Linked DNA regions of Homo sapiens. The protein of the gene in region 6 interacts with the protein of the main gene of each other region in a pairwise test. Each region holds a gene or a part of one and is shown on either strand. Other genes may lie near its edges.

Region 1 (4,357 bases), on a different chromosome or scaffold from region 6:
TTTACCTCTCCTTTCAGTAATCAACCATTGCCATTTCCCACTATCTACTACCCCCTTCACTTATTTTCGTGTGTGACACTTTCTAAAAAATGTAGAAATTGCATTATACTTTATCTAAAGCAGATATGGGAGGCCAAGACACAGGTCCTATGTTTGCCTGTTTCAGCTCATCATAGGGGTTATTTTCTAACCATCAGATTAAACCTGCATTTTTAAGGTTAAAATACAAAGTAAAGTGCACAGGTCGTTCCTACAGTACATAGAGTAATCTTTCTTCACTCCCAAGATAACCATTTTAAAATCCTCTATGTTGGAGTATTTGTCTTTATAACTTGAAATCATGTGCTTATTTTTCTGTTTATCTTGATTTACTCAACTTTAAGCAAAGATATTTTTATTTTTATTTTTTGTTCTTTTAAAAAAATTACTTTAACATTCTTGAACTTTTGTTTCTGAATGTATTAGGTTATATCTTTTTTTTTTTTTTTTTTTTTTTGAGAACGGAGTCTCGCTTTGTTGCCAAGGCTGGAGTGCAGCGGCACGATCTCAGCTCACTGCAACCTCTGCCTCCCAGGTTCAAGCGATTCTCCTGCATCAGCCTCCTGAGTAGCTGGGATTACAGGCACATGCCACCACACCTGGCTAATTTTTGTATTTTTAGTAGAGACGGGGTTTCACCATGTTGGCCATGCTGGTCTTGAACGCCTGACTTCAGGTGATCTGCCTGCCTTGGCCTGCCAAAGTGCTGGGATTACAGGCATGAGCCACCATGTCTGGCCAGTATTAGACTATATCTTAACTCGCTGTTCTCTCCCTTTCTTCCCCACCACACTCCCACTCCGCTTTCCTTTTCTGAGCCCTCTACTAGCTGTGTGAGCTCTCTGTTGGTTGGTTCTAAAAATGGAAAAGTAGTCAAACAGCATTTGTAACAATGCACATATATGTGTTATTTACTGTGTAATCACAGAGGAGATGCTGGACTTTCAGATGGGTCTTTATATTTGTGCCATTCAACAAATGTGTTTTGAGAATTTTGTTCTTTAACTGTAATTTACTCAAAATCATACTGGGTTTTTAAATATTTCGTATTGTAGCTGACTGTACGCTGCTTTCTTTTCCTAGCATTTCTGTTTCCCCTTCTTTCTTTTGAGTAGAAGAAACCTACACCTTTCTTTGCTCTCGGATCTTCTAGCTTCTTCTTCACACTCTTTGTGGGATGCCCTGATGGGCTTCGAGGGCTGCTGCATTGTTGTCGCCCTCGAATTTCTCTCCATTTTACTCTTGGGTTAGTTCTGCCTGTTCCTCACCCCACGTTGTTGTCTGTCTTTGTTCCTTGTTTGTTTTGCTTTAGTACTTTAATTTATTCAGAAGTGGTGCATGAAAGTTTAATTTGGCATCCTTGTATGGTTTACACATTCAGCTGACAATCCGTCTTCTAAGAGTTATCAAAATAACGACCTCCAAAAGTCATCAACACTTTGGGTCTGCTGGTGTCCACCAGCCCTTGTTGGCTTTTATGAATATTTCATTTATGCCTCTTTACACGACTTTGTCCACTGACTTGAACTGGAAGCCCTTCTCCACTCTTGCATGCCTTCACAGAGAAAATCAAGGCCATTTGTTTTAAGCTTCTTTGATTTCTTTTCTCATCTTTTGTTATTACTCTCCTATTATTACCTCTATTTGTAGCCATTCCTCCTTTTTGTCCCAGTGGTAAAAGTGCAAATTCCTGTCCGTGGCTAATTTTGTCCATCTGTGCTTTGGATCTCATTTCTTCCAACCCTTAAATCTTTATTTCTCCTGTATTTCAGCCTTTTACTATATATGCGTTAATATTTATGTATAATGTTTATGTATTACACATTATATGTTATGTGTTATACAGGTATACTTTGATATTTCTGTATTACATGTTATCCATATAAATATATGTAATACTTATGTGGTACATATTACATACTTTAAAGCTTCTTGAAAGCGTGTCCCCATTTATTGTTAGCATTTTGACTGCATGCACACGCCCCAGACACTTTAGCCTGGGCTCTGTCCCCTGCTTATGCCGCTAAAACTGCTCACTGGTGATCTCAGTGCTGTCAAATCCTGTGGATGCCGTTCTGTCCTAATTTTACTTGAAGCATTCAACACTGACCGTTTTTTTTTTTTAATGCCCTCTTTTCTCTCCTTCTCTGATGCTGTTTCATGGCTGCTCCCAACTTTCTTTCCATTCCTCTTAGTCATCTTGTTGGGTCTTCATCTGCTCACCCTTTCGATATTGGTTTTACTCAGAGTTCTGTCCTTGATTTTCTGATCTTAATCACAGCCATAGTTTCATCCACCCCTGGGTGTGGATGTCTTTCAAATCTTAATCTCTAGACCACCCTTTCCCCCCTCAAAAGACCTGGTGCTCGTGCTTGGATGTCTCACTGATGTCTCAGACATAAGTTGTGCCTGCCGTGTGATAGATACTCAATATGGATTTGAATGAATGCGTGTCTTGAATATAGGAATTGAATGGCTCTCAATTTCTACTGTGTGTGTGTGTGTGTGTGTAGCTTTAATAAGCTGCTGAATTATTGCTGAATTATGCTTATTCAGAGTTTGTTTTACAAGGTCATTACCTCTCTTCCTTTTTTCTGTTGTCATTTTAGTAGGTCATTGTACTTTTGTCATAGGAAAGAAGGAGAAGAAAAAAGTTTGTCTGTTTTTGTTGCTGTTTCTTTTTTTTGAGACAGAGTCTCACTCTGTCGCCCAGGCTGTAGTGCAGTGGTGCTATCAAGGCTCACAGCAATCTCTGCTTCCTGGGTTCCAGTGATTCTTGTGCCTTAGCCTCCTGCGTAGCTGGGATTACAGGTGCATGCCACCACACCCAGCTAATTTTTTTATTTTTTCTTTAGTAGAGACAGGGTTTTACCATCTTGGCCAGGCTGGTCTCGAACTCATGGCCTCAAGTGATCCACCTGCCTTGGCCTCCTAAAGTGCTGGGATTACAGGAATGAGCCACTGCACCCAACCATTGTTGCTGTTTCTGAATAGCTGTTATTGAAATGTGGGGGGAGGAGGTCCAAATGGATTCTCAAAGTGAAGTATATGTTACCTGTGGATTTAATTTAGCTGTGCATTCCCAGTCCTTTACTGTCATGGATAATAGACATGAATTGTGTATATATATATTTTGCCATGGATAGTATTTTTCTTTTCGGAGAAGGAGGGGTTTGATTTGGGCAAAGTGTTTATGGGAAAGAGACAGCTGGTGAAGTGTGAGTGTGTGGAAATACATGAGAAACGCCTGATCTCTCCATGTCATCTGCGTTGGTAGAGCCCTGTGCTTGCCAGGTGTTGTGGTGACAGGTGCAAAACAAGGGTGCCCAATTTAGAGGTAAATGCTAAAAGGCCAGTGTCATTTGCGGGTGAATTATTTAATTACAGACAAAGGGTATCAGTTAAACATTTTACAGAGTGCTGTCAGAAATAAAATAGCTTTTAATTTCATGTAAAGTGTTGTAAATGTTCTCATCCATTCTCATGCAGTAGAAAAAATGAAGAACCTAGAGAAAGAATTGGCTGCCGTAAAAAAAATTCTCAAGTGATATTTTTGGGTTTTTTAATAGTGCTTGCTCCCAAAACACACCCTGCCCCCCAACACCAACTAACAGTCTACAGCTTAGAAACGAGCAATGGATAGGGTCAAGAGACCTGGGATCTGCTGTTCCACCTCCTGTACCACACTTTTTTTAGTTGTAAGGGGAAGATTATATGTATTTCCTTCAGTAACGCTAAGAGGAGGAAACAAAATATTCTGAGGTCATTAGAAAGGGAGCATAAGTATTCCCCCTTTTTATTAGAAAGTTGATTGATTATGGCTGAACTAACCACCATTATCAACTGAGATGAGTAAGTTTTGAGGCTTGAAATAGAAATGGTTTGAAATGCAAATTTTTATGTGCAGCTACTGTTTTGACAACCATATCATTCCTCCTTCTTTTTTGTAGGCTTTAGAATCCAAATTAGCAGCTTGCAGGAATTTTGCAAAGGACCAAGCATCACGAAAATCCTATATTTCAGGGAATGTTAACTGTGGGGTGCTGAATGGCAATGGCACAAAGTTCTCTCGATCAGGGCATACATCTTTCTTCGACAAAGGGTAAGTCCTGAATGTTTTAAGTGATAATTTTTTGAGTAGTAAAGTGACAGGTTAGTAAGTGAGCATAATGAAGCCTTGAAAAGGTAAACTCAGCTTGACAAACCTTCCCGAAGCCTGTTATCATTCTAATCTTAGGTGACATGACGTCTGTTGTTGTCCTCTAGTCCCCATGGAGTCTGTTGCCCCAGGAACCCTGAATCTGAGGCTTCTGTCCTG
Region 2 (4,357 bases), on a different chromosome or scaffold from region 6:
CTTTGAAGAAGACTTTGGGATGCTCGAGGTGCGAGGCCATGATGCTCTCTCCACACCAGTGGGGTCTCTCTGAACCCCTCAGAACCGCCAAAGCCACACAATGTCCATACAATCCCATTTCCTTGAGTCTTGACGTGGTGCCTAGATAATGAAGTAGAGAAAATAGTTTGGGGAAAACTATGCATGTAATATATAAACTATTCTTGGAGGAAGCAGAACAACACAGAAAAGAAATATACACGAAAATATAGAAGGGCACAAAGAAAGAATTACAGACAATGTGGGGTTTGGGCCTACATATCCAAATCAATTTCCCTCATGAGTTTGTTTTTATAGAGAAAAATCTAGGCTCTGGCTATGGTTTGGATATGGTTGGCTTGTCTGTGCCAACTCTTATGTTGAAATGTGATCTCCAATGTTGGAGGTGGGGTCTAGTGGGAGGTGTGTGGGCCATGGGGGCAGATGCCTCATGAATGGCTTGGTGCCCTCCTTTTGGTAATGAGCAAGTTCTTGCTCTATTAGTTCCCATGAGAGCTGGTCCTTAAAGAGAGGCCTGGCACCTCCTCCACTCCCCTCTTGCTCATCTCTCACCACGTGATCAATGCACACGTGGTTCCCCTTCTTCTTCCCCCTTGAGTGGAAGCAGCCTGAGGCCTCACCATAGGCAGATGCTGGTGCCATGCTTCCTCTCCAGCCTGCAGAACCATGAGCCAAATAAACCTCTTTTCCTTATAATTTACCCAGCCTCAGGTATTCTTTCATAGCAACACAAATGGACTGACAGGTCTCTTCATGGAACCTCTGCAGTGATTCCCTGCCTTATAGAAGAGCAAAGCTTCAGAGCCTGACCCTGAGCCTCAGAGGCCCAGGTGGATGAATGTTTAGAAATTTGAAAATGACTCACTATAACTAAACTCAGAGACTGACGTAAAAATCCAGAAGGGCAATTTGTTCACTTTTAATTGGAGACCACTGCCTAAAGCCAGACTCAAGTGTCCTCTAGCCAGAACACGTTCTCATTGCAGGGCACAGAGTAAGAAGCCACTTATAAACAAGATGCCATGCAGCCCCGCACAGCAAGACAAACCCCTGCCAAGCTGACTGGACCCCTGAATTCTCCAGCCAGAATCCTCTCTCTAGAGATGTGAGGTAGGAAGTCCGTTATAATCAGAGGCCTGTTGGCAGGCCCAGAGTCAGAACACAGGGAGCAAGCTGTGTGATTTGGTTGCTAAGGACCTGCGGCAAGGCAGCACAGCTGGTCGGCTTGTTGGGGCACCTCGTCAGTGATTGCCTAAGTCAATGTCTGCTGCCGAGAATGGATTCAACTTTGTCTTTGTGCTAGATATGACAACTTCTGTTGTGATTGATGCATTCTTTAAATATGCCAATATATCTAACCAAGCTAGAGTCCAAATTTGGACTCAATCATCCTATCTCTAGAAACCCTTGGTACACTTTTGTTTAGTTCCAACACATATGGAGTTCATGATTCAGTTATCACTCAACATTTTTTGAGCACATACTTATAAGAAGCACCATTCTAAATTCTGGGAACACGGGGAACAAAATATTGAAAACAATCCCTTCCCTCATGGAGTTTACATTATAGTCAATTCAGGAAAACTAAAAAAGTATTTATGGCAGGTGGAGGTAGGTGCTAGGAAGAAATAAATCAGAGAAAAGGGATTCAGAGAGAAGATGGGTGGCCTTCCCAAGGAGATAACATTGGAACACAGACCTAAAGGGAGTGAGGGAGAGAGCCATCTGGATAACTGGGAGAACATTCCAAGCAGAGGGAGGTGCAAAGGTCCTGAAGCAGCAGAGTGAGAAAGGGAGAGTGGAAGGAGAGGAGGGCAGGTAGCTGACGGACCCCCAGTGAGCACATCCCATCCTAAAGGCAGAGCCATCCTACAGGCTCCAGCTTGTGTTCCAAGCAACCTGGGCAGCCCTGGAAGGTGTTAGAGACAGGATGATCTCATCCTGCCCTTGTTTTTGAGACTGAGTCGCGCTCTGTTGCCAGGCTGAAGTGCAGTGGCGTGGTCTCAGCTCACTGCAACCTCCACATCCTGGGTTCGAGCAATTCTCCTGCCTCAGCCTCCCCAGTTCCTGGGACTACAGGCACATGCCACCACACCCAGCTAGTTTTTGTATTTTTAGTAGAGACGGGGTTTCACCATGTTGGCCAGGATGGTCTCGATCTCCTGACCTTGTGATCTGCCCATCTCGGCTTCCCAAATGCTGGGATTACAGGTGTGAGCCGCTGTCCTTGGCTCCTGCCTTACTTTTAACTGATCACTCAGCTGTCATGAAGAGACTCCTTCAGGAGACAAATCTTAGTTCTGAGGTCTCGAAGGATGACTCACCATAGCTAAAAAGGACAGCACAGTGCAGTCTGAAACTGCACAGGCCTGAGTGAGACTCTCAGAGCTCTCCTTCCTTTGTGGTGGGTGACTTAAAGCTCTCTGTCTGTCTCTGTATCTATACGGTGATAAAAACTGCAATACCGGCTGGGCGCGGTGGCTCACGCCTGTAATCCCAGCACTTTGGGAGGCCGAGGTAGGCGGATCACGAGGTCAGGAGATCAAGACCACGGTGAAACCCCATCTCTACTAAAAATACAAAAAAGTAGCCAGGCGCGGTGGCGGGCGCCTGTAGTCCCAGGTACTAGGGAAGCTGAGGCAGGAGGATGGCGTGAACCCAGAAAGTGGAGTTTCCAGTGAGCCGAGATCGCGCCACTGCACTCAAGCCTGGGCGACAGAGCGAGACTTCATCTCAAAAACAAAGAAAAAGCCAAAAAAAACATAAACAAACAAAAAACTGCAATACCAACCCTCAGGGAATTACTGCAAGGATTAGTGAAGATTAACAAAGATCAAACGCTGTATTATATGGGCCCAGTGTAGAGCTGGCCCTCAATTATATGTTAGTTGTAATTATTACTTTTATTTTAAAGAAAGAGTCCATGCCTAACACACCGTTTTCTGCTCATTTGCTGTTCTTCACGCATGCGAATAAGAGATACTCCCAGGTAGAAAATACTCCCCATTGAGGAATGAGTCTGATCTATTTGAAGAACACAGTAATTTTGCATTCTTTCTTCCTTTAACCTGGCTTATATTATATTATATTCACTTATTTAAACATGGAAGCCTATTTAAGGCATACTCATCTAATTTCATATGAATTATAGCAAGTGAAATTTAAATGGGTCTCCTTAGATATTGGGTACATCTTATTAAGATAATCAGACTCTTCTAGTTAAAAATGGTCATTTCTCTAGACAATCTCCTCTAGTCAAAAACTCCATTTCTTCACAAGTGTATCCATGAAAATCTGTAATTCACTTAAAGAGGACATTTTACTTTCATAACTCATTGAAAATATGTCACAGATATTGGGACAGTCAACTTATAGACCATATCATAATGACATTCTCTTACCTCCTGCAAAAACTTTTCACTCATTTGACTGAAAGGATGTCCCGGGGGCTTGATTCCAGACACCATCAATCCGGAACTGAAGACCCTTGGCTTCTGCAGGTCTGGCTTGAATTTCTCATAGAGGTTGGCAGATGGCTTCAGGTCACCACCTGCTGCCTTCTCTTCGTGGGGAAGAGGCATGGTACATGTGGGCGGGGCATATGGAAGCCCCACTGGAACCAGCGAGGCGTCCACCTGGCCCAGGGCCTGGGGATTCCTCCTGATGTAGGTGATGATCTTGGGCCTCACATGCTTGGGCTTGGGCATAATGATGGGCTTAGTTTCTGTCCTCTCCTCTGTTTTTTCAACCTGATAGTTCTCCATTCCCTCCTGCGAGGAAGGTGTGTCCTTGGAATGTGTGAAGACAGGCTTGGGGATCCCACTGGGGCAAGTGTTCTTGTCAGGCACTTTGGGGGACGTGTTCAACAAGCGTGCACTATCAGTAGGGGGTGGAACTACCAAGGGGGACCCCGCATCCATACCGAACACGCTAACATCCTGAAAACTGCTACTGGGTGTTGTAGGCTGGTAGGTCATGTTCACAGTTGTCTCTGGGTGGAGGGGTGCTGGAATATTGAGAACTGAATCTGCTCTTGCTGAGGTGCTTTCAATCTTATCTGCATTCTCTAGAAGGTTCCTGTTTTCAGCAACAGATGTGGTGACCTCTTTGCTTTCCCGTGCTTCTGAGCGGCCACTTTGAGGGTCCAGGGGCTCAGGCACCTCCGTCTTGTTCTCTCCAACAGAAGGATTGAACACCAAAACCATAACACTGTCCTTATTCCCACTGCCCAACCGCCTTTCCTCCTCAATGACATCCAAGGGCTTGCTGTCAGTCAGATTATTAGGAATAAAAGCCACATGACTGTCACCTGGTGAAA
Region 3 (4,065 bases), on a different chromosome or scaffold from region 6:
TATTTAAATCAATAATACCATATAGTTTCTTTTGTTATAAAGGATTTGTATAAGTCCTTGAAAACACTATCTGCAGAACTGGTACCTTGGCTTAATTTGAAGAAGCAGGATGAAAATGAAGGTATCAAAGTTGAAGATTTGTTGTTTATAGTAGATACTATGCTGGAAGAAGTTGAAAATAAGGAAAAGGTAATACCTACATGAACGGTCACCTTCTAATGTTTCTTATCTCAAAAACTGATAAATTGTGGATATTGATATTTGTTCTACTAGAGTTCTATTTGTCTTTTAAAAGTTTTTATTTGGGATTATTTTAAGATAATGAACTCTTTCTTTTTTACCTCTTTTTTGGACAGGACAGCAATATGCCACACTTTCAAACTTTGCAAGCTATTGTTTCTCACTTCCAAAAGTTATTTGATGTGCCTTCTTTAAATGGAGTCTATCCCCGAATGAATGAAGTTTATACTAGGCTTGGAGAAATGAACAATGCTGTGAGAAACCTCCAAGAACTCTTAGAATTAGGTGATGACCTAATTTGTCATTTTGGGCCCCCATTTAAGAATTTTTAATAAATTAACAAAAAGTAGATTAAAAAATGTTTAAGTGAAAAATTGAGGATAACTGAAGCATAAAATGTTTGATGTATGTAATTTTGGAAATTCTCTGTTAAAATATCCTTTTATTTCTCTTTTGCAGATAGTTCATCCTCATTGTGTGTGCTAGTAAGCACTGTTGGAAAACTCTGTAGGCTGATTAATGAAGATGTGAATGAGCAGGTTATGCAGGTATTAGGACCTGAAGACCTCCAGAGGTATTTGTTTTAAAAGTTTACAAAGTATCATCCAGAATGGCTGGGTGTGGTGGCACACGCCTGTAGTCCCAGCTACTTGGGAGGCTGATGTGGGAGGATCACTTGAACCCAGGAGTTTAAGTCCAGTCTGAGCAAGGCAGTGAGACCCTGTCTCTAAACAATAAAAATTAAAATAAGTATTATCGAGAGTTCCTGGAGGGGTGAAATTAAAGACTTTCAAAACTTATTTACCTTCCCTGTTTGGAATAGCATCTTTTGTGTGTGTGTGTGACTGTAAGCACACGCCACCACGCCCAGCTAATTTGTGTGTGTGTGTGTGTGTGTGTAGAGAGAGAGATAGAGACAAGGTTGCACCATGTTGCCCAGACCAGTCTCAAATTCCTGGGCTCAAGTGATCCGCCTGCCTTGGCCTCCCAAAGTGCTGGGATTACAGGTGTGAGCTACCATGCCCAGCCTTGGAATAGCATCTTTTAAGTAACTTGACAATCTAAGATAATCTCAAACCCTTAGGGATGGAGGAAATGCCAAATATTTTCAAGATAAAAATAGATTGTAAGGCCTATAAAGAAGGTCAGGTACTCTTCAGCATAAGCCTGTTTTCAGGAAATATTATATATGGAGAAATTCAAACCTTGTTAGCAACATCATGTAAGTTCTGATTATATCAATAAGTTCTATTTTTAGGACACTACCATAGACCACTGAATAATCATTAATAGTATATTTATTTGATTAGAAGATAAATGTTGAGGAGTTTTTAAAAGACTAGGCATCTATAACATAAAAGCTGGTATTTTTAGAAAATATCAAGACATTGTAGCTATAGTTAAAGCAACTTTCCCCACACCTGACCCCCAATTTTATATTACAGCATATGTGAAGGGAAACACACAATATATACCACATAAACCATATGTTTTGCAAGTTTTCCTAGAAGAACCCTTACATAATCTGACACTTGGTGCTTTTAAAAGGAACATATATCTTGCTATTGGCCTATTTCTTCCTTCCCACAGTTTTACTGACTACTGATTTTTTTTCTTTTTTTCTTTTCTTTTTTTTTTGAGACAGAGTCTCACTCTGTTGCCCAGGCTGGAGTGCAGTGGCTCAGTCTCAGCTCACTGCAACCTCCGCCTCCCAGGTTCAAGCAATTCTCATGCCTCAGCCTCCTGAGTGGCTGGGGTTACAGGCATGCGCTACCACACCCAGCTAATTTTTGTACTTTAGTAGACGTGGGGTTTCACCATGTTGGCCAGGCTAGTCTCGAACTCCTGACCTCAAGTGATCCTCCTGCCTTGGCCTCCAAAGTGCTGGGATTACAGGCATGAGCCACTGTGCCCAGCCTGATATTTTTTCTTAATGTTTAATAGGATACTGGGTGTAAAAGCCAATTATTTTTAGAAAATGCTGTAAAAGCATGATCTAAGAAGCCTTGAGCTTAATGGGAAATTTGCCATGTTAAGAATGTTGTATATTGGCTGGGCGTGGTAGCTCACGCCTGTAATCCCAGCACTTTGGGAGGCCGAGGTGGGCGGATCACGAGGTCAGGAGATTGAGACCATCCTGGCTAACACGGTGAAACCCCGTCTCTACTAAAAATACAAAAAATTAGTCGGGCGTAGTGGCAGGCACTACAGGAGGCTACTCGAGAGGCTGAGGCAGGAGAATGGCGTGAACCCGGGAGGCGGAGCTTGCAGTGAGCCGAGACAGCGCCACTGCACTCCAGTCTGGGTGACAGAGCAAGACTCTGTCTCAAAAAAAAAAAAAAAAAGAATGTTATATATGAATTTAACAAATTTTACATTGATATTGAAATGCTTTTTTAAGAAAAGTGATATTGGATTAACAAAAAGCTCAGAAAGAAAAGACTGTAGTAAATGATCATTAAGTTTATATTTAAATTAGCAATATAGTTTCTATTTTGAAAATGTTCTGTTTGCAATCAGATGCAAGAACCCAAAGTTAGAAATCAGGTTTAAATTGTGCATTTTTTAAACAGCATTATCTACAAATTGGAAGAACACGAGGAATTTTTCCCAGCATTTCAGGCATTTACTAATGATCTACTTGAAATCTTAGGTAAGATCTCTGGTGGTGATGGTGAAATTTTGAGTCTTAAAATGTCAGTGCATTTAAGAAAAGGGTGTTCCTTGGTCACTGGATTAGTATTTTTACCTAGTGGTTGGAAACCACTAACAGTTCTGGAAACACATTCCTTACAAGCAGTTAGAGTTTGTTTGGATTAGTCCATAGAACAGAAACACAGACCCTTAACAGCAATAGGAACTACCTTTGTTGGAGGACCTTATCATGAGAGATGGCATCATTCTGTCCATGCCTAGTTTAACCCTGGCTCTGTCATTGTCTAATGAGAAATATTCTTAGGATTTATGATCTTAGAAGGTCCTTCCTCCCTCCTTTTTTTTTCTTAAGATACCACCTATCTACAAAATTTTTTAAATATACAAATAATATTTCCTCTCTGGTTATATGAAGTAACATAAAGTCATAAATATCTGTGGAAAGGAAAAGATGAAATATTACACTTATACTGAGGGTCAGATTGAGGGCTTCATTAGTAGTAGTGTCTCCTAAAAGGAAAAAATTTGCTTAGGACTCATAAGGCAAAATAGAGACCTTATCTAGTTTAAATATAATTACATATGGCTATAAAATTATTTATCTTACTATTAAGAATGATTTTTAAAGTTTTAAAGTGATGTATTCACCAGTGAATTTTTTCTGTATAGCTCATTTGAAAGATTTTTTTTTTTTTTTAAAGAATGGCTCTTTGCTTTTAGAAGAGGAGATGAAGCTTGGTATGAAAATAAGGGAATGAGTCAATGAAAACTTGATAAGAAGAATAAGTGAAAGAAGTATCTAATTAGAATATATAGCCTACTGAACATAAAGGAAGTTTTGTGACCAGTCTTATGTGCAGTGGGGAAGCAAGGGAGACAATGAGTGAGCTTGCTTTAGGCTTGTCCTCATGTTTAAAAAGATCACAGCAAGTGAAAATGTAATTTGAAAGTTAAACTTGAGATGAGGTATGAAACTGTATAAGTGTGTTGTCTGATATCCTGAAGAGCCTGGTTTCATAGAATAATATGATTCTTGCTTTGGGATTGCTATTAACTTAAGCAGTGATGTTCTCATCATTCATAAATATTTGGCACATTAATAAACATATTTTAATAGGGTGTGCTGGTAACACTTATTTCAGAATGCTTCTATAGAAACTTCCTTTCAGA
Region 4 (4,357 bases), on a different chromosome or scaffold from region 6:
TTTTAAAGTCCTCAGGTTTTGCATTGCTCTTTCTGTGTAGAAATCAAGGATTTGGTATGCCAGACGTCATAATTGTTTAGTCACATTAGCCATTCAAACTTTGGCAAATCTAATTTGTATTGGAGAAATTTTAGCACCAACTTAGTGATCATGTGGAGGATCTGCTTTGCTTTTATAGAAATGTCATTGTTTCTGTGGAACAACCAAGTTTTGCTTACCTCTCTGCATTTCAGAGCCAGGGTCCAGTTGTTTTGTCACTGCTCCTTGGCGTAACCTCAGCACACTCGTGTTTTACTGGGTGCAGCCTTGGTGACTGCTGCGGGTGCTGCCCCAACGCCAGAGCACTGAGTGACAAGTGGTGAGTGTGAAAAACTCATCACCTCGCAACAAGCTTTGAGCACTTCTCATGGCCTTTCTAGACCACGAGAACTTACATGAACAGATTTTGGAGGTGTGAAACATGTATTTGTTTTATCAAGGATCTCACTTGGCTTTTAGAGACGTTCTCTTACAGAAATGTTGGACTTTGGTGTGTAAGGCAACTTAATGGGATTTTTATTGCAGTAAAATTAATATAGAACTTTAAAAAGGAATTTATTATATCAGCAATCAGCCATTCATAGTTGGGGCTGGAGATTGTAAGATAAACCTTCCTTTGGTAATTTTTTTTTGCCATGTAACATCTTGAGAATTTCTAAAAGTGTTTAATAATAATAAATACCTCATTTGTCTGTCGTTAATTAATAATTTCTATAAACAGCGTCCAATCCACGTATGTCAGGCTGATCTTTGAGTGCCGCATTCTGTCCTGTGGTTGGTACCATTTCCTGTGTTCTTCATGAGAAAATGATACTCCTCATCCCTTTTTTGACTCTGGGCGTCTTCATGTGTGGTTCTTGCCTGTAGCCTGGTGATGCCCTTGGCCCATGGAGGCTGTGTGGTCTCCAAAGACAGCTGTGTTTTTTATATGCTTGTATTTGCTCTTCAGTTGATTTTCCTTCTCTGCTGAGTGCACTTGCCGCTGTTAATGGCCTTGTCTCCATCAGACCTCCGTTTCCTAATGTGCTGCTTCTAAATCTGTGCTTGCAGACACCAAAGGGTAACGGGCTAGAATTATGTCGGAAGGAAAATTCAGCATATTTGGAGTAATAATTTAAAGGGCTCCGAGTGAGCAGAGTGTAGGAAGTGGAGTTCATGGACTTGTGACATGTATTTTGGCAGTACTTTGTGAGCTGTGGTTCCCTGTATCCAGGTGACTGGGTTAGTTAGTTGGGTTGTCAGGGTCAGCATTGTATTCCTATATCTGTTCATATTTTTCTGAACTTGAGCTAATCCCACTCGGTTGGCAATGTAAGTGATACAGCTTTGTGCGTGATTGATGCATTTCATTTGGGATGAGTTTATAAGGATATTTATTATTATTTTTTTTTGAGACGGACTCTGGCTCTGTAGCCCAGGCTGGAGTGCAGTGGTGCTATCTTGGCTCACTGCAAGCTCCGCCTCCCGGGTTCACACCATTCTCCTGCCTCAGCCTCCCGGGTAGCCGTGACCACAGGCGTCCGCCACCACGTCCGGCTAATTCTTTTGTACTTTTTAGTGGAGACGGGGTTTCACCGTGTTTTGCCAGGATGGTCTTGATCTCCTGACCTCGTGATCCACCTGCCTCAGCCTCCCAAAGTGCTGGGATTACAGGCGTGAGCCACCGCGCCCAACCTCTAAGGAGATTTTTGAGCTGTGAATTGGGAGAACATGGTGGCGTGACCCCATGGGGCTTAGGTTCTTTAGTGACCCGTTGTCCCAGCACTGACTTTTCTTGAGATTTGTGACTAAACTTGTGGCTGTATACAGATAATTAAAATTCCTGACAGCATGTTAGATTATGATGTTTGAAAGACTATATAAAATATAAAACATGTTAAGATGAGAGAATTTGATTTTAGTATCTGGCATTAGTTGATGTTCTGAGGTTTAACGCTGTCACCCTGCAGTCCGACCTTGTGAGCTTTACACGTGTACAGTGGTATGCAGCATCATGATGGAAGATGGTGCACACAAGATCTAGTTCTGGAAGTTTTGGATGGGCTTAATATATAGGCCCCTTATTGAACAATTCCTTACTGAATTGGTTATTATTATTATTTTTTTATTACTGTGAGTTGATGGGCTTAAATTGCAACTTGAAGGAACATTCGTTGCCTTAAAAGCCATATTGTGTTTTACAGTGGCTTAGGGAGAGAATGAAATCAAGGAAAATGTCAACGCATTTGCTTGTTTAATACCACTCAAAGCTGTGAACTGTCATCCTGCCATCCCTCAAATATGCATGTTACTCACGAAGCGGAGGAAAAGTGGTGTTGCATAATTGAGCTGAGCCGTTTTATATCAATTTTCTCTCTTTAGGCTCAAAGTGCTGACAAATAAAGCTTCTGTGATGCTCTTTATGAAAGGAAACAAACAGGTAAAGAACTCAAAAATGGTTTTATTTGTAATTTCTTTTGATGTTAACATCTGCAACAAGGGGACAGTTAAATCTTTTTCCTAGCTTTAGCTAATGAAGCTGTAGCGATATCAGGAAGTTATCCACGCCTTAATTGGTGCTTACGGAGATCAAACAAAGTAATCTACATTTTGCTTGACTTTATCATCAACATCTCAGTGGGGTGCATTTCTTTCTGCTGCCAAACTTTGTCAGCTAATGTGGTCAACACTGTTAACACTTTACTGGTTGTATGAGTTGTTATGTCATTATCCTTTGTTTGAGTTTGTGGACTGCTGAAGTGTGCAGCTGAGTCAGTGGACTTCCTGAATGCAGGGAACCTGGTCGTGCTTGGGTTTGCACCCCTAGATCGTCCTTTTGTGACAGTGGAGGAGCAAACCCTGGCTGTAGCAGGTGTGCTCTGTGTGTTTGATGAATGAGTGAAATGGTCAGCAATTCTCATTTTTAATGGGATGGTTCTTACAGCTTTTTGATGTAAGTACATATTGATTATGCGTCATTTTGAATATCAAGTTTGATAGATTACTTCCACCGATAGTTTGAGCAGAACTAATTTTCTTTCAGATTGAGATCAGAGTGGTAATTTCCAGAAACCAGCCATACACATTTATATCATATTTTGTAATTTTCATAGCAATTGAACCTCTACTTAATTCTCAATCAGTTGTTGAAGTAGGCAGGGTTGGACAGACTTTGGCCTGTTTTAGAGATAAAGAAACCAAAGTTTTGAAAGGTGAGGCTGTTGGAATAAAGAAACTGCCTCACTTGTTAGCAAGATGCACCGGGCAAGTGACATGGAGAACCACTTTGCTCATTGGGAAAGGGACACAATACTTCACAGGGCAGACTCTGGTTGCCATAACTAGTGTATAAGTTAACATAACTAGTATAATGAAGCTAATTAGTTAACATAACTGGTTAATATAATTAGGTAATAATGAAAGTAACAGTAACAAAGAAAATGTTAATATAAATTTCAGCATGTTGGAAACATTAGGTTAGGGCCTAAATTCTTTGATTTTGGTTCAGTGTATTGAAACAATAGAGGAAGTTAATAATTCCTAGTAATGATAAAGTGACATTTTTTCTTATTCTCGGTAATGGTTTAAGTGGATATTTATTCTCAAAACTATTTTTTTCTGGAAACCTAGAAAGTATTAATACATTTTGGAAACAATGTTATTGGGGCTATTAAAATGTTGACATGGTACCATATCTTTTCCACAAGATTGCTGGAATTTGGAGTCCTGTGGCATGAAAAAAGCTTAAGATTTTCATAAACTCAAAAAAGTGTTAGTATTCTGTAATGTAAAAATAAATGAGGCTGGATGCGGTAGCTCATGCCTGTAATCCCAGCACTTTGGGAGGCCAAGGCAGGTCCGAGGTCAAGAGATCGAGACCATCCTGGCTAACATGGTGAAACCCCATCTTTACTAAAAATACAAAAAGTTTGCTGGGCGTGGTGGCGCATGCCTATAGTCCCAGCTACTCGGGAGGCTGAGGCAGGAGAATCGCTTGAACCTGGGAGGTGGACATTGCAGTGAGCCGAGATCACACTCCAGCCTGGGGACAGAGTGAGACTCTGTCTCAAAAAATAAATAAATAAATAAATAAATAAATAAAATAAAAAGAAAAATGGGAGTCAGAATCCAGTTGGAAATGGGAAAATAATTGTCATAATCATTGCAAAAAGGCTAAGTGAGTTAAGATCATTTTGCATGAGTGAATTAAACAATGAACTCAAATCTCTGTAGAAAATCTCGGTTTCACTTAGAGGAACTTTTTGACCACAGAGAATATAAACTGTTGGAACACATGTCATCTCAAGTGGTTACAAACCAAAGGAAAAGGAAGTCTGTG
Region 5 (4,357 bases), on a different chromosome or scaffold from region 6:
TTCATTTTAACTTAATTACCTCGTTAAAGACCTGTCTCCAGACAGTCATATTCTTAGCTACTGGCGTGAGGACTTCAAAATTTGAATTGTAGAAGCACACAGGTTAGCCCAAAACATAGTGTCAATGACCAAAATTGACTTCCTAAAACAGACCTAACGAGGTAGTAACAGTGGGGTGTGTGAGGATGCATCAGCACACATGATGGGAAAACAGTGCTTATGACGAAGGCACGGAGTGAGTGGTGATGAAGTGTATGCCAATGAACATTAACTGAGGGGCTCAACTTGACCATTCTGATTCTGTGTCTATTGCATTCTGAGAGCTACTTTAGGAGTTCCTGTATTACTTATGTGAATGGATCCTTGTGTCACAGAAAACTAAAAGGTGACTAAGGGTAGGGAGAGGGGCTGTATTGAGCAGTTGTAAATTTTGCCTCAGTGGCCACATGATTTGTTCAGAAGCAAATCACATTTGAAATGTGTTAATTGAAAAAAAATCATTCTATTTTGCTCAACAAAACAAGTTGTTTTCATCATGGGAATCTTGGTCTCCTGGAGGACTGTGATGGTGGAAAGGGGAGTTTGCAAGCTTATTTCATGTTTTATAAAACCTAATGGAATTTTTGTGACTCTGAAATAGGGCCATACAGGATAACTAAATCTTCACATTTCTTTGCTTTTGGTAGGATTGATATCAGCAAAGTGTGTCAACACTGGTTATCGTAGCCGATCAGGAGCTCTGATTGGCAATTGTATAAGTCTTTGAAGAAAAAGGGAAGATGAATTATTAATAAGTGAAGCTTACTAGACTGTCTTTCAAAGCATAAGAACTGTTGAGAGAGAGATAACAGGAAGGGGTACTTGGAGGTGAAATGATTTGGGACCACTGAGTTAAACCAAATTCTCTCTGACTGCCTCCGTATCTGACTTGCCATTAACCCCACTGCAAAATCTTATTTCTAGGTTTTTATCAATTAAAAAAATTTGAACATGAAATTTGGAATCAAAACCTTCATCTAAATAGATCTCTATATCAATTATGAGAAAGTGCCAGCAAAGAGAAAGCTACGGTTATTCACACTTTTCAGTCTAATGGTATTTATATTCTTTTGGCTGATGTTACTTAACTGAAAACAATGCTATTATTATCCACCTTCACTAAGTAAAATGAGTCAATCTGTGTTCTTTTCTGCAAGTCAGGCTAATGCATGTACTGTTGCTGTCTCTGAGTTTGTTTTGGTTCTGAGTAAGATTTTGTAAATTCTCTACTTCTCATTTTCTACCCTTGTGTCTAAAGCCATTTAAACAGTGACTTTTTTTTTTAAAGAGGGAGTCATATGCCATATCTAGACTCTTTAGATGTGTTCCTAACTCAGGTGGGGGAAACACAGCTTTAAAAACTGCTTATTTGCATGTTCCATACAATATCTGATGTGAAGTATGATAGAATTAACACCATAATCTTTTACAGTGGGCAGAAGGGAATCAATATTTATCTAGTGCCAATATTTTTTATATATTGGCTTTTCTGGAGTAATTTACACAACAGACTGAGTTGGTGGTATTTTCTTTATTTTTAAAGGAGAGAAAACTAAGGTCCGAAAAAGTTAAATAGCTTGATCAAGGTCATAGAGCTAGTAAATGGTGAAGACAGGATTTGAATCCTAGCGTGTTGGACTCTGAAGATCGTGCATAGTGTCTTCGTGACCATATGGTGATGAAGTGGCATTTTGCGTGTGGTGGAGAACATTTCAGGTACCCGGAAAAAGGAAAAGTTATACAAGCCCAGAGTGCCTTGCTTATATGTATGTCCAATAAATGCTTGATCCACTTGGCTAAGCATTTATTTACATGGATTTGTCATATTTGACTTGGCCATCTGATGAACAAAATAATGTCTGTGTCCTTCAAAGGATGAAGTCTTGAGTCGTAATGGGACTAAAAGCACTTAGTCCCAGGATTTCCCTGAGAGCAAGGGGGAATGAGTCCAGGGGGCAGTGAAAAGAAGACTAGATCCCAAGAGGCAGGTAGGACTCCAGGGATTATCAGACCCATGTGGGGCAACAGGTGGCCCAAGAGGAAGATCTGGTTCTAGGAGGTATTCTATTTGGCTCATGGCATATAAAACATTTGTTTACTAGTGCCTGTATTTGACAAGCGGGAGGTTCATATAAATTCCCAGATTGCCTAATTCTTACAAAAATGAAATGATTCCCAGATGGCAGCCATCTGTCAGAGCTGGGCAGGGCTGCCCCTTTGGGAGGGCATTTGTTTTCCAGCTGACCACACCCCCCTTGCAGATGTGTGATTCACCCATGCTCCTGTAAATAAATACATGACTTTGAAAAGCCTCTTGTTCATAGGCAGTGAAAATTCACCTTAGAAAATTAGTGCCCCCTCCAAAATCATACAGGCAGTTGATATCATGAGGAGGTTTAGGAAAGCAGGTCCCATGCTCTCCAGTCCTTTCCTCTTCAGTTTTGGTGGAGAATCAGCTTCTGGGACTTTGAGGACAGGGTACTTATCATCTGAACGGTGGGGTGAATGGGGTTCTGTTTTATCCAGTGCTTCCCTGGACAACTTTCAGAGCCTTGTTTTCTAGTGGTTAAAAAAAAAAAAGATAATGGGGCCTGGTGTGGTGACTCATCCCTGTAATCCCAGCACTTTGGGAGACTGAGGTGGGAAGATGACTTGAGTCCAGGAGTTCAAGCCCAGTCTAGACAACATAGTGAGGCCACATCTCTACAACAAATTGAAAAAAAAAAAAAAGGCCAGGCATGTTGGTGTGCTCACCTGTAGACCCAGCTACTTGAGAGGCAGAGGCAGGAGAATGGCTTGAGCCCAAGAATTTGAGGTTGCAGTGAGTCATGATTGGGCCACTGCATTCCAGCCTGGACAACAGCATAAGACCCCATCTTAAAAAACAGAAAAGAAAAGAAAAAAAAGTGGATAGTATTCTGCATTCCTCTCCCATTATAAGAAGTAAATAAGATGTATGTGAAAGCAATTTGAACCTGTAAAGCTCTGAACAAAGTTCATGTGGATATTTAGACAAGTTCTGCAGAGTGTGCAGCTCAGGGGGAGGTAGCCACGCCCTGGTCCAGATTTTGGTCTCTAGAAGGACTCTTGTAGAACCTCTAATCATTAGGGACTGGCTCCATGGAGCTGCTTTTCCATAAAACATTACCTCCTCAGATGATATCTCTAAATCTGATAAGTCCCAACGGAAACATTATTCTTACATTTATTTGAAAATATTTAGGACACCATGTGTGTGAGGCCCTGGGCTGCATCCTAGAGATGTGACGGGAAGTAAATGGCCCCCTCCAGGAGACAGGCAGCAGTAGTGTGGTGTGTGAGGCACTGTGAGAGCTTGGGTCAGGGGGTCAAGGGGGCACACAGTAGAAGCCACTCTATTATTATTAATAGACTCCACTGTTGTTGATGGCTTGTTTTTAAATGACAGAGGAATCCTGGGCCAGATGTTCTAGGGAAAAGAAAAGAGTGTATCAAATGTAACAACTGTGAGTTTGCATGAAGGATATGGCTTCCCACCCAGGCCTACCTACCCTGTGACCATCCTTCATGGTACTTTTCTGACCACGTAGCTGGAAATCCTTCTTACTGCTTGTCTGTTCCAAGGCTGAGATCCTGCCAGCTGGATCATACTTCTCATTCTATTTCTGTCGGGCACTGGGGTGCGGCCAGGACATAGACTGCCTTTCAAATCTGTGGAAAAGGATGATGTCAGGCCTCTGCCGAGGGCCCTGTGAGTTCTCTCAGAAGCCTTAGGCCTGTGGAAAAGCATAGAGCTTGAAAATTAAAACTCCATGGCCAGGCACAGTGGCTCATGCCTATAATCCCGGCAGTTCGGGAGGCCGAGCTGGGAGGATCACTTGAGCCCAGGAGTTTAAGACCAGCCTGTGCAACATAGTGAGACCCTGTCTCTAAAAAAAATAATAATAATAAAATAAAATAAAGAAAAAAAAGAAAAGAAATTAAAATGCCAGGTGGCTCTGCACATTTCCAAGTATCCAAGAATAGCAAAAGTGATGATGCTTTAAACATGAGACCTCTCCTTCCTTTCCTGGGAATATGGAGGATAGCCTGACAACTCACCTTCAACAAAATGCCTGAAATCCTGAATATCATATAAAACACATATTTTTAAAAGAAAAATGTTATTTGTATAAATTGATGGGGTACTGTGTAATTTTATTACATGGATACACTGCGTAGTGGTGAAGGAAGAGCTTCTAGTGTAGTCATCACCAGAATAATGTACACTGCATCCAAATAATGTACACTGCATCCATTACATAATCTCTCATTATTTACTCCCTCCCCATCCCTGACA
Region 6 (4,357 bases):
TCACTGCAGTTCTGACCTTCAAGGTAAACATGCAAGAGACGGATAAGGCACGGGTTAGTGTCGGGGGTACCTAATTTTGTCATTGCTATCAGTTCCCTGATCTAAGTGACTCTGTAATCCCAACACTTTGGGATGCTGAAGTGGGAGGAATTTCATGGGGAATGACTACAGCCTTCATGCATGTGGATACATAATCTGAGCCTGAATATGTCATCTTCACATAAAACCACGATTTGGTTATTGACTGTTCTGTGAATCCTGGGTTCCTTGGCTCATGGGAGCTTCAATGTGGCTTTTCTGGCCAGGAACTTGCCTGACATTTTCAATAAGCCAATCCTTAAGTTCAGCATGCTGGTATTTTTCAGTGTCTGGGTCACCGTCCTTCCTGTCTACCAAAACCCGAAATGGGGAAGCTATCAATCCTGGCCTCCACTGATTTGCTGCTGCTTCTCTGTCTGCAGATGCTATGCTGTTCTTGTTTGTTCCTTTTTTTTTTTTTTGAGACAGGGATCTTGCTGTGTTGCCCAGGCTGGTCTCAAGCTCCTGGCTTCAAGCAATTCTCCTGCCTCAACCTCCCAAAGTGCAGGGATTACAGGTGTGAGTCACTATGCCTGGCCTGAGTTTTCAGTTTTTGACAGTGCTCAGTATATGTGGTGGCACACATTTGGACTTTAATACTGAGAAGTTCCATTATTATTACTGTTATTATATTGTATTACTATTACTATTATGTTCTGTCACCCAGGCTGGAGTGCAGTGGCAAGATCACAGCTCACTGTAGACTCAACTTCACAGGCTCCCTAGTAGCTGGGACTAGTAGCTGGAACTAGGACTAGGTGTGCGCCACCACGCTTGGCTAATTTTAAAAAAATTCTTTTTTTAGCCAGGTGTGGTTGTGCACATCTGTAATCCCAGCTATTTGGGAGGCTGAGGCAGGAGAATTGCTTGAACCCAGAAGGTGGAGGTTGCAGTGAGCCGAGATCATGCCACTGCACTCTAGCCTGGGTGACAGAGTGAGACTCCACCTCAAAAAAAAAAAAAAATTTAAATTTTTTAAATTTTAGAGACAGGGTCCTGCTATGTTGCCCAGGCTGATCTTGAACTCCTGGACTCAAGTGATCCTCCCACATCAGCCTCCCAGTGTTGGGATGGTAGGCGTGAGCTACCACACCTGGCCAATTTCATTATTACTTATGAGCCATATGAGTTTAGACAAGACTTTGTGCTCTCCATACTTAACTTTTTTCATTTGCAAGATGGGAGGTATGATTGGGTGGGGCTAATCAAATGAAATACTAATGATTATGAAATCACATTAGTCACCACAGTGATGTGCAAACATAAATTATTGAAATATTGAATAAAAATGGGATTTTATTTGTTCTTTAGTAAAACACAAAGCTGTTCATTTTTTTTCTTTCCTAACATGTGCTGGAAATCTACCATATGGAAATGATACTTGTGAATGGTCATGGACTTTTAGGCCTTTGCTGATCATTAAAATAAAAATCTTCCAGTGATTCCTTTTATAAAAGGACATCAAAGCCTGGGCAACAGAGTGAAATCCTGTCTCTATAAAAATAAAAAAAATTGGCCAGGTGCAGTGGCTCACACCTGTAATCCTAGCACTTTGGGAGGCTGAGGTGGGTAAATCACTTGAGGTCAGGAGTTCAAGACCAGCCTGGCCAACATGGCGAAACCGCATCTCTACTAAAATACAAAAAATTAGCGGGGCATGGTGGTGCACACCTGTAGTCCCAGCTACTCAGCAGGCTGAGGCAGAAGAATTGCTTGAACTCAGGAGGCAGAGGTTGCAGTGAGCTGAGATCATGCCACTGCACTCTAGCCTGGGCAACAGATAGAGACCCTGTCTCAAAAAAAAAAAAAAAAAAAGAATTACCCAGGGTGGTGGCATGTGCCTGTAGTCCCATAGCAGAGATCCCTTGAGTCCAAGAGTTGGAGGCTACAATGACCTATGATTGTGCCACTGCACTCCAGCTTGGGCAATAGAGTGAGTCTCTGTCTCTAAAATGAAAAAAAAAAAAAATCCTATTTTAGGCCAGGCGCGGTGGCTCATGCCTGTAATCCCTGCACTTTGGGAGGCCGAGGTGGGTGGATCACCTGAGGTCGGGAGTTTGAGACCAGCCTGACCAACATGGAGAAACCCTGTTTCTACTAAAAATACAAAATTAGCGGGACGTGGTGGCACATGCCTGTAATCCCAGCTACTTGGGAGGCTGAGGCAGGATAATTGCTTGAACCCGGGAGGTGGAGGTTGCGGTGAGCCAAGATCATTGCACGCCAGCCTGGGCAACAAGAGCAAAACTCTGTCTCAAAAAAAAAAATTAAATTAAAAAAAAATCCTATTCGAGGGTCTCAAATACACTTTTCTTAAAGGGATAGGAAAACCATTAACAAAATATTTAACAGAATACTTCACTTCTGGTCCACCAATAACCACTTCTCAAGCAGACACCAGCTGGGTGTGCTATATAATTCAATTTAATTGTGACAGTATCTACCTGGAGACGGAGTCCAATACCAAAAGCTAACGGCTCACAAGAATGCCCCTCACTGCAAATGTCAGTTGTAAGTCCCAGGATGTGACCTATGCTTCTGACCAACAAGCTGTAAATCAGGGTTTTCATGACCCACTCTTTGGGTTTGATTAATTTGCTGTAGCAGCCTACAGAACTCACAGAAACACTTTACTTACATTCACCCATTTATTACAAAGTGTTTTTTTTTTTTTTAATAGAGCAGGGTTTCACTCTGTCTCCCAGGCTGGAGTGCAGTGGCAGGATCATAGCTCATTGCAGCCTTCAACTCTTGGGATCAAGCGATCCTCCCTCATCAGCCCCGCAAGTAGCTAGGAATATAGGCATGTGCCACCACACTCAACTAATTATTTATTTTTTGTAAAGTTAGGGTCTCGCTCTGTTGTCCAGGCTAGTCTCAACCTCCAGGTCTCAAGAGATCCTCCCACCTCGCTCCTCTCAAAGCACTGAGATTATAGGAGTGAGTCACTGTGCCTAGTCTTACAAAGGATATTTTATTATTTATTTATTTGTTTACTCTTTATTTTGAGACAGGGTCTCACTCTGTTGCCAGGCTGGAGTGTAGCAGCACGATCTTGGCTCACTGCAACCTCCATCTCCAGGGTTCAAATGATTCTCGTGTTTCAGCCTCCCGAGTAGCTGGAATGACAGGCATCCTCCACCACGCCCAGCTATTTTTGTATTTTTAGTAGAGAAGGGGTTTCACCATGTTGGCCAGGCTGGTCTCGAACTCCTGACCTCAAGTGATCCATCTGCCTTGGCCTCCCAAAGTGCTGGCATTACAGGTGTGAACCACTGCACCCAGCCTACAAAGGATATTTTATTTTATTTATTATTATTATTATTTTTTTTTTGAGACGGAGTTTTGCTCTTGTCGCCCAGGCTGGAGTGCAATGGCGCGATCTCAGCTCACTGCAACCTCTGCCTCCCAGGTTCAAGCAATTCTCCTGCCTCAGCTTCCCAAGTAGCTGGGATTACAGGCGCCCACCACCACGCCTGGCTAATTTTTTTTTTTTTGAGATAGAGTCTCACTCTTTTGCCCAGGCTGGAGTGCAGTGGCACAATCTTGGCTCACTGCAGCCTCTGCCTACCAGGGTCAAGTGATTCTCCTACCTCAGTCTCTCAAGTAGCTGGATTACAGGCCCATGCCACCATGCCCAGCTAATTTTTTTTCTGTGTGTCTATGTTTTTAGTAGAGGCAGGGTTTCACCATGCTGGCCAGGCTGGTCTCGAACTCCTGACCTCATGATCCGCCCACCTTGTCCTCCCAAAGTGCTGGGATTATAGGTGTGAGCCACTGCACCTGGCCTAATTTTTGTATTTTAAGTAGAGATGGGGTTTCATCATGTTGGTCAAGCTGGTCTTGAACTCCTGACCTCAAGTGATCCACCTGCCTCAGCCTCCCAAAGTGCTGGGATTACAGGCGTGAGCCACCACACCTGGCCCTACAAAGGATATTTTAAATGATACGAATGAACAGCCAGATGAAGAGATACCTCCAGGCATATGGTTATGTTCTTATTTACCAACCAGAAGGCTCTCTGAGCCGTGTTTTTGGGTTTTTATGGTGGCTTTATTATGGTGACATGATTAATCACATCATTCACTATGGGTGATCAACTCAACCTTCAGTTTTCTCTTCCCTCCCTGGAGGTGGGGACAGAGCTGAAAGTTTCAAAGCTCCAGTCACATGGTTGGTTCCCTGGCAACTAGCCTCACATCCTGTGGTTTGTAGGAGCTTTCCAAAAATCACCCCATTAACATAAACTTAGCTGTGGTGGAAAGGGGATGGTTATGAA
Region 7 (4,357 bases), on a different chromosome or scaffold from region 6:
ATATCTTTGTAATACATTTTGAAATCTGGACTGTAAGTCATTTGACTTTGTATTTCTTTTTCAACATTGTTTTGACTATTTTGAGTCCTTTGGATTTCCATATACATTTTAGGATACAGCTTTATCGATTTTTGTAAAAAAGACAGCTGGGATTATGATTGGGATTGCATTGAATCTGTAGATTTAATTGGGGTGATGGTGGTATTGCCAGCTTGACAATATTGAGCCTTCCAATCCATGAACATGGAATTGAGTTTTGAATGTTAAACCAAACTGGTATTCCTGTACCATTTGGTCATATATTGCTGGATTTGGTTTGCTTGTCTGTTCTTATGGAGACTCTGGTAGTATCAGAGTTTAGGTCTTGGGGTGGTGAGGATGAACATTTTAACATGTTTAGTTTTAAAGTATATTTCATTGAACCTCCCTTCTTCAGTGGTCTTTGAAGAGTTTTGAGTGCAATCACCATTGAATTTCTGGCTGGCTTAGCTGTCTTATTTATAAAGTTATTTTAGGCACCAAGAAATTTCTAACTGCATATAACTTTCAGTATTGACAATTTCTCTGATATTTCTCCTTGAACTTTTCAAAACAATGTATTTCATCACTGTTGCCAAAATTTTCAAGACACATTTATCTTAGCGATTATAAAAGAATATACATATTTTAATTTTAAAACATTTGGAATTATGATTAAACATCCTCAGTTACGTGGAGTATGAAAAATGTTTTAAACTGAGTTAAACCTCTGGAACATTATATTTTAATTTCTTTAGGAAATATATTTACTCTCTAAGGAGCCCTTCATTAAATTACTGTAAAGTTACTTGTGACACCACCCATTTAACTTTTTTTTTCCCCCCGCAATATAGCCGGGGTCTCACTATGTTGGCCAGGTTGTTTTGAATTCTGGACCTCAGGCAATCCTCCTCCTTCAGCTTCCCAAAGTGCTAGAATTACAGGTGTGAGTTACCACACGTGTTCACGTTTAACTTTAATATGCTGAAACTTTTTAACAACAGGAACAGATTGGTCTTTTGTTTCTTTTACCTAGAATTCAGATGTATAGAAGATAAATGTGATGTTATAAACAGATTAAATGTCTGTCTGCATTTTAGAGGTCTTAGTTGGCTTGTTTTTATAAGACAGTGAACCATAATTTTGAGCATAATTATTTCTGAATTTTTATATTTGATAGACAAAGAATCGATGTGTTTTCAGTAATTCAGTGTTAAGCATAAAGAAGGAATGTTTTCTGTCATTGCAGTGGGTTTCTTTTTGGTTGCTTTTGAATTATTAGGTGATCATCAGAGAAATTATTTATGGAAAGAAATCTCAGGGAGATGATCTTGATACTATGAACACACGGAATATTTCCCACCTGTTGTTTATACAAGTGATCAAGTAGGTGGTGTACTATACATTGATAGAGAAATGTAGTGTCTTTGTATACAACATTTCAGATGACTTTTTTTTTTTTTTTTTGTAAACTAATTGTGGACAGTGGAAAATAACCAGTCTCATCATTAGCGTTTGAAGTTTGAAAATTTGGTTGTCGGTAAATCAAATTCTGACTAAAGATGTTAAAGGATGTTACAAGGTATCTGCTAGTGGAAGAGGGAGGCATTTTTCATTAGAAAAATACATTACCAACCAGACAAAATAAAATTATTAATTGTTTCACAGACTGCTTAAAGACTGCATTAAATAAAAATGATCAGAACTTTAAATGTTTTATTTATAGAAGACTATTTATTTATTTTTTTACTATCCTGCTTTTTTAGGTTTTACACACGCTGGAAAGATTGGGAATCATGGTATTCTCAGAGCTTTGGTTTACATTTTTCCTTGAGAGAAGAACAGTGGCAAGAAGACTGGGCATTTATACTCTCTCTTGCTAGTCAGGTGAGGATGCTTCAAGTCTTGTTGCTTCTATGAGAAAAGTAAGCATGTAGTCTAAACTGGTTTATTTGAGCAAACCATGTTGGGGGCAATGTGGTCAAAGAAAAGAATGCTTGACGTGGTATCATCAGTCAACTTGGGTTCTAGTGATGACTGCTGTGTATCAAATAAATAGCATCGCAAGTATAGATGAGCATCGCAAGTATAGATTAGCATCGCAAGTCCTCACTGCAGAGCAGGAAGAGTAACGTGTTTTTATATCGAATGATTAAAAACATCAAAAAGTGAAAGCTGTGCTATGACGGTTACATACAGTAGATAGTCTTGGGATTGCTCTCCGTTCCTGCAGCATAGGCTTGATGCCTATGGTACCTATCCAGGTGAGCTCTGTTCTGTCTCTGGGGACACTTAAGATTACTGGTGTAGGTACTTGCATTGCTGTTGCTGATCTGTCAGGCCCTGAGGAACCAGTTGTCAATCTTCATAATGCTCCCTGTGGTGAGGCAATACCTGTGTCATGTAGGCAAAGGAAAAGGGTAGTTTAGCTTACTCTGAACTAATTACCATCAATAGGAATGATTTCTGATTAATGTGGGAATGAAGTTTTGCAAGTTTGCTAACGTCTTTTTATTAATGAAGGCTGCTTGTGACACAGAACTGTGTAGGGTTGTCCCTTAGACTCTTGGTTTCATGCTTTATTTTGTGAAGCACTTCAGTATACCAAACTGTAAAGTACAAATATATATACAACTACTCCTTTTTTTTTGCAGAAAGCACCATGGTTCATTTGAACTTAGAGAAGGAGGTACCCGATCTTTGGGCAATTTGGGCAGGATTCATAGTGGTTGATTTACATGAGACATGTATCTCACACCATGCATTGTAGCTCGATGATGGACCCATTTAATATTAGTATTCACGAGTTAGTTGATACTGCCATTTACATTTGCATGAAACAGGCTCACTTATTTATTTCAGGAGGACTTTGTTGTAGGTAGTGCTTTCACAGTAACTTAACGAGAATGTGATAATAAAGCATCCTTAGTTATCTGAATCTCTGGTTCCTGAGGTTGGAGAGTTAGTAGTGAGGGATATTTCAAAGTATGTATGCACATCTGTATAATTTGTGAGTTTGGATGGTAAATGATATTTGCATGTAGCCTTTATAGATTTCTTTTACAGTTTTACTGGATTTATTATTTGAGGAATCAAATGCTGCTTTGACAATCTTTTCTTTCTTAAAAACCAACTGCGATAGTATACTGAAGGGGAGGTAGTATTGTTTTTTACACATCAGTTTTCCAGGAGTGGTAATAAATGTTTTAAGTTTTTGTTTTGTTTCGTACAGCCTGGAGCAAGCTTGGAGCAGACGCACATTTTTGTACTGGCACATATTCTTAGACGACCAATTATAGTTTATGGAGTAAAATATTACAAGAGTTTCCGGGGAGAAACTTTAGGATATACTCGGTTTCAAGGTAAGCCATTATTCAGGAACGTTTTACAAGTTTCTTTGAACGGAATGGCTCAGATGTCAGGAAGGAGCAGTGGACAGGGGAATGTGAACAAGGGCAGTGAGGGAGTGGCTCTTTCTTCCTGTGACTGTTGGGATTTTCTTCCCTCTCTTTCCAGGTGTTTATCTGCCTTTGTTGTGGGAACAGAGTTTTTGTTGGAAAAGTCCGATTGCTCTGGGTTATACGAGGGGCCACTTCTCTGCTTTGGTTGCCATGGAAAATGATGGCTATGGCAACCGAGGTGCTGGTGCTAATCTCAATACCGATGATGATGTCACCATCACATTTTTGCCTCTGGTTGACAGTGAAAGGAAGCTACTCCATGTGCACTTCCTTTCTGCTCAGGAGGTAAGCAGTTTCTCCTATGAACTATTTCTAGTAGTGACCTTGTACCAGAAACAGCCTGAAGTGCCTTTCAGGTGTGGTTTTATCTGCACTATCACTTAATTTCTGAATGTGATGGTAGTAATTGCTGAAGGTACTAGCTATACTTTGAAATTTACCTTTTCAAAACTGCTGTATGGGGACACATCAAGGAACTTAAGGTGGTGATGGGTTTTAAGAAGAAAAAGTAAAGATGAGGTTTGTGATTTAAATATGGCATTTTAGGGAATGAGAAGTGAGTTTTTATCTGAAAGCAGAGTTCCAAGAATTGCAAGGCCAGTGTGGTTTAAGAGGGGAAGCAACAGGGAAAGAGAGAGGGTAGGCGGCAGGGGGAGGGAGGAAGGGAGAAGAGGTCAGAGAGGATAGGGATGGGGGGGAGTTCATTGAAGGCTTTTTAAAGCTTTGGGTTTTACTCTGGATAACGTGGTAAACCAATGGCCAGTTTACCCAGAAGAGGAACATTTGGGGTCTGGTGCATGGCAGGAGCAGGAACACCAGGTATTGTAGATGAAGGGGAGTGAAAGGGTGCTGTAGACCAGACAGGGGAGGTGGTGAGA

Evidence for each region.
Region 1: the proteins of ZNF490 (region 6) and NDEL1 interact in binary tests that used the Homo sapiens proteins (3 or more experiments, as listed by UniProt).
Region 2: the proteins of ZNF490 (region 6) and MTUS2 interact in binary tests that used the Homo sapiens proteins (3 or more experiments, as listed by UniProt).
Region 3: the proteins of ZNF490 (region 6) and CEP70 interact in binary tests that used the Homo sapiens proteins (3 or more experiments, as listed by UniProt).
Region 4: the proteins of ZNF490 (region 6) and GLRX3 interact in binary tests that used the Homo sapiens proteins (3 or more experiments, as listed by UniProt).
Region 5: the proteins of ZNF490 (region 6) and VWC2 interact in binary tests that used the Homo sapiens proteins (3 or more experiments, as listed by UniProt).
Region 7: the proteins of ZNF490 (region 6) and ZRANB1 interact in binary tests that used the Homo sapiens proteins (3 or more experiments, as listed by UniProt).

Annotation. Positions count from the first base shown.
Region 1 is NC_000017.11:8,456,020-8,460,376, forward strand, and holds part of NDEL1 (nuclear distribution protein nudE-like 1), read left to right. Parts: intron 1-3,989; coding exon 3,990-4,141; intron 4,142-4,357. UniProt on the Homo sapiens protein: Required for organization of the cellular microtubule array and microtubule anchoring at the centrosome. May regulate microtubule organization at least in part by targeting the microtubule severing protein KATNA1 to the centrosome.
Region 2 is NC_000013.11:29,025,987-29,030,343, reverse strand, and holds part of MTUS2 (microtubule-associated tumor suppressor candidate 2), read right to left. Parts: coding exon 3,441-4,357; intron 1-3,440. UniProt on the Homo sapiens protein: Binds microtubules. Together with MAPRE1 may target the microtubule depolymerase KIF2C to the plus-end of microtubules. May regulate the dynamics of microtubules at their growing distal tip.
Region 3 is NC_000003.12:138,496,859-138,500,923, reverse strand, and holds part of CEP70 (centrosomal protein of 70 kDa), read left to right. Parts: intron 1-42; coding exon 43-189; intron 190-356; coding exon 357-525; intron 526-699; coding exon 700-814; coding exon of another isoform or gene 815-827; exon of another isoform or gene 828-1,040; intron 1,041-2,813; coding exon 2,814-2,893; coding exon of another isoform or gene 2,894-3,060; exon of another isoform or gene 3,061-3,588; intron 3,589-3,596; coding exon of another isoform or gene 3,597-3,661; exon of another isoform or gene 3,662-4,014; intron 4,015-4,065.
Region 4 is NC_000010.11:130,167,033-130,171,389, forward strand, and holds part of GLRX3 (glutaredoxin-3), read left to right. Parts: intron 1-2,400; coding exon 2,401-2,458; intron 2,459-4,357. UniProt on the Homo sapiens protein: Together with BOLA2, acts as a cytosolic iron-sulfur (Fe-S) cluster assembly factor that facilitates [2Fe-2S] cluster insertion into a subset of cytosolic proteins.
Region 5 is NC_000007.14:49,779,936-49,784,292, forward strand, and holds part of VWC2 (brorin precursor), read left to right. Parts: intron 1-4,357. UniProt on the Homo sapiens protein: BMP antagonist which may play a role in neural development. Promotes cell adhesion.
Region 6 is NC_000019.10:12,603,880-12,608,236, reverse strand, and holds part of ZNF490 (zinc finger protein 490), read left to right. Parts: intron 1-4,357. UniProt on the Homo sapiens protein: May be involved in transcriptional regulation.
Region 7 is NC_000010.11:124,979,925-124,984,281, forward strand, and holds part of ZRANB1 (ubiquitin thioesterase ZRANB1), read left to right. Parts: intron 1-1,300; exon of another isoform or gene 1,301-1,404; intron 1,405-1,784; coding exon 1,785-1,905; intron 1,906-3,250; coding exon 3,251-3,380; intron 3,381-3,534; coding exon 3,535-3,764; intron 3,765-4,357. UniProt on the Homo sapiens protein: Ubiquitin thioesterase, which specifically hydrolyzes 'Lys-29'-linked and 'Lys-33'-linked diubiquitin. Also cleaves 'Lys-63'-linked chains, but with 40-fold less efficiency compared to 'Lys-29'-linked ones.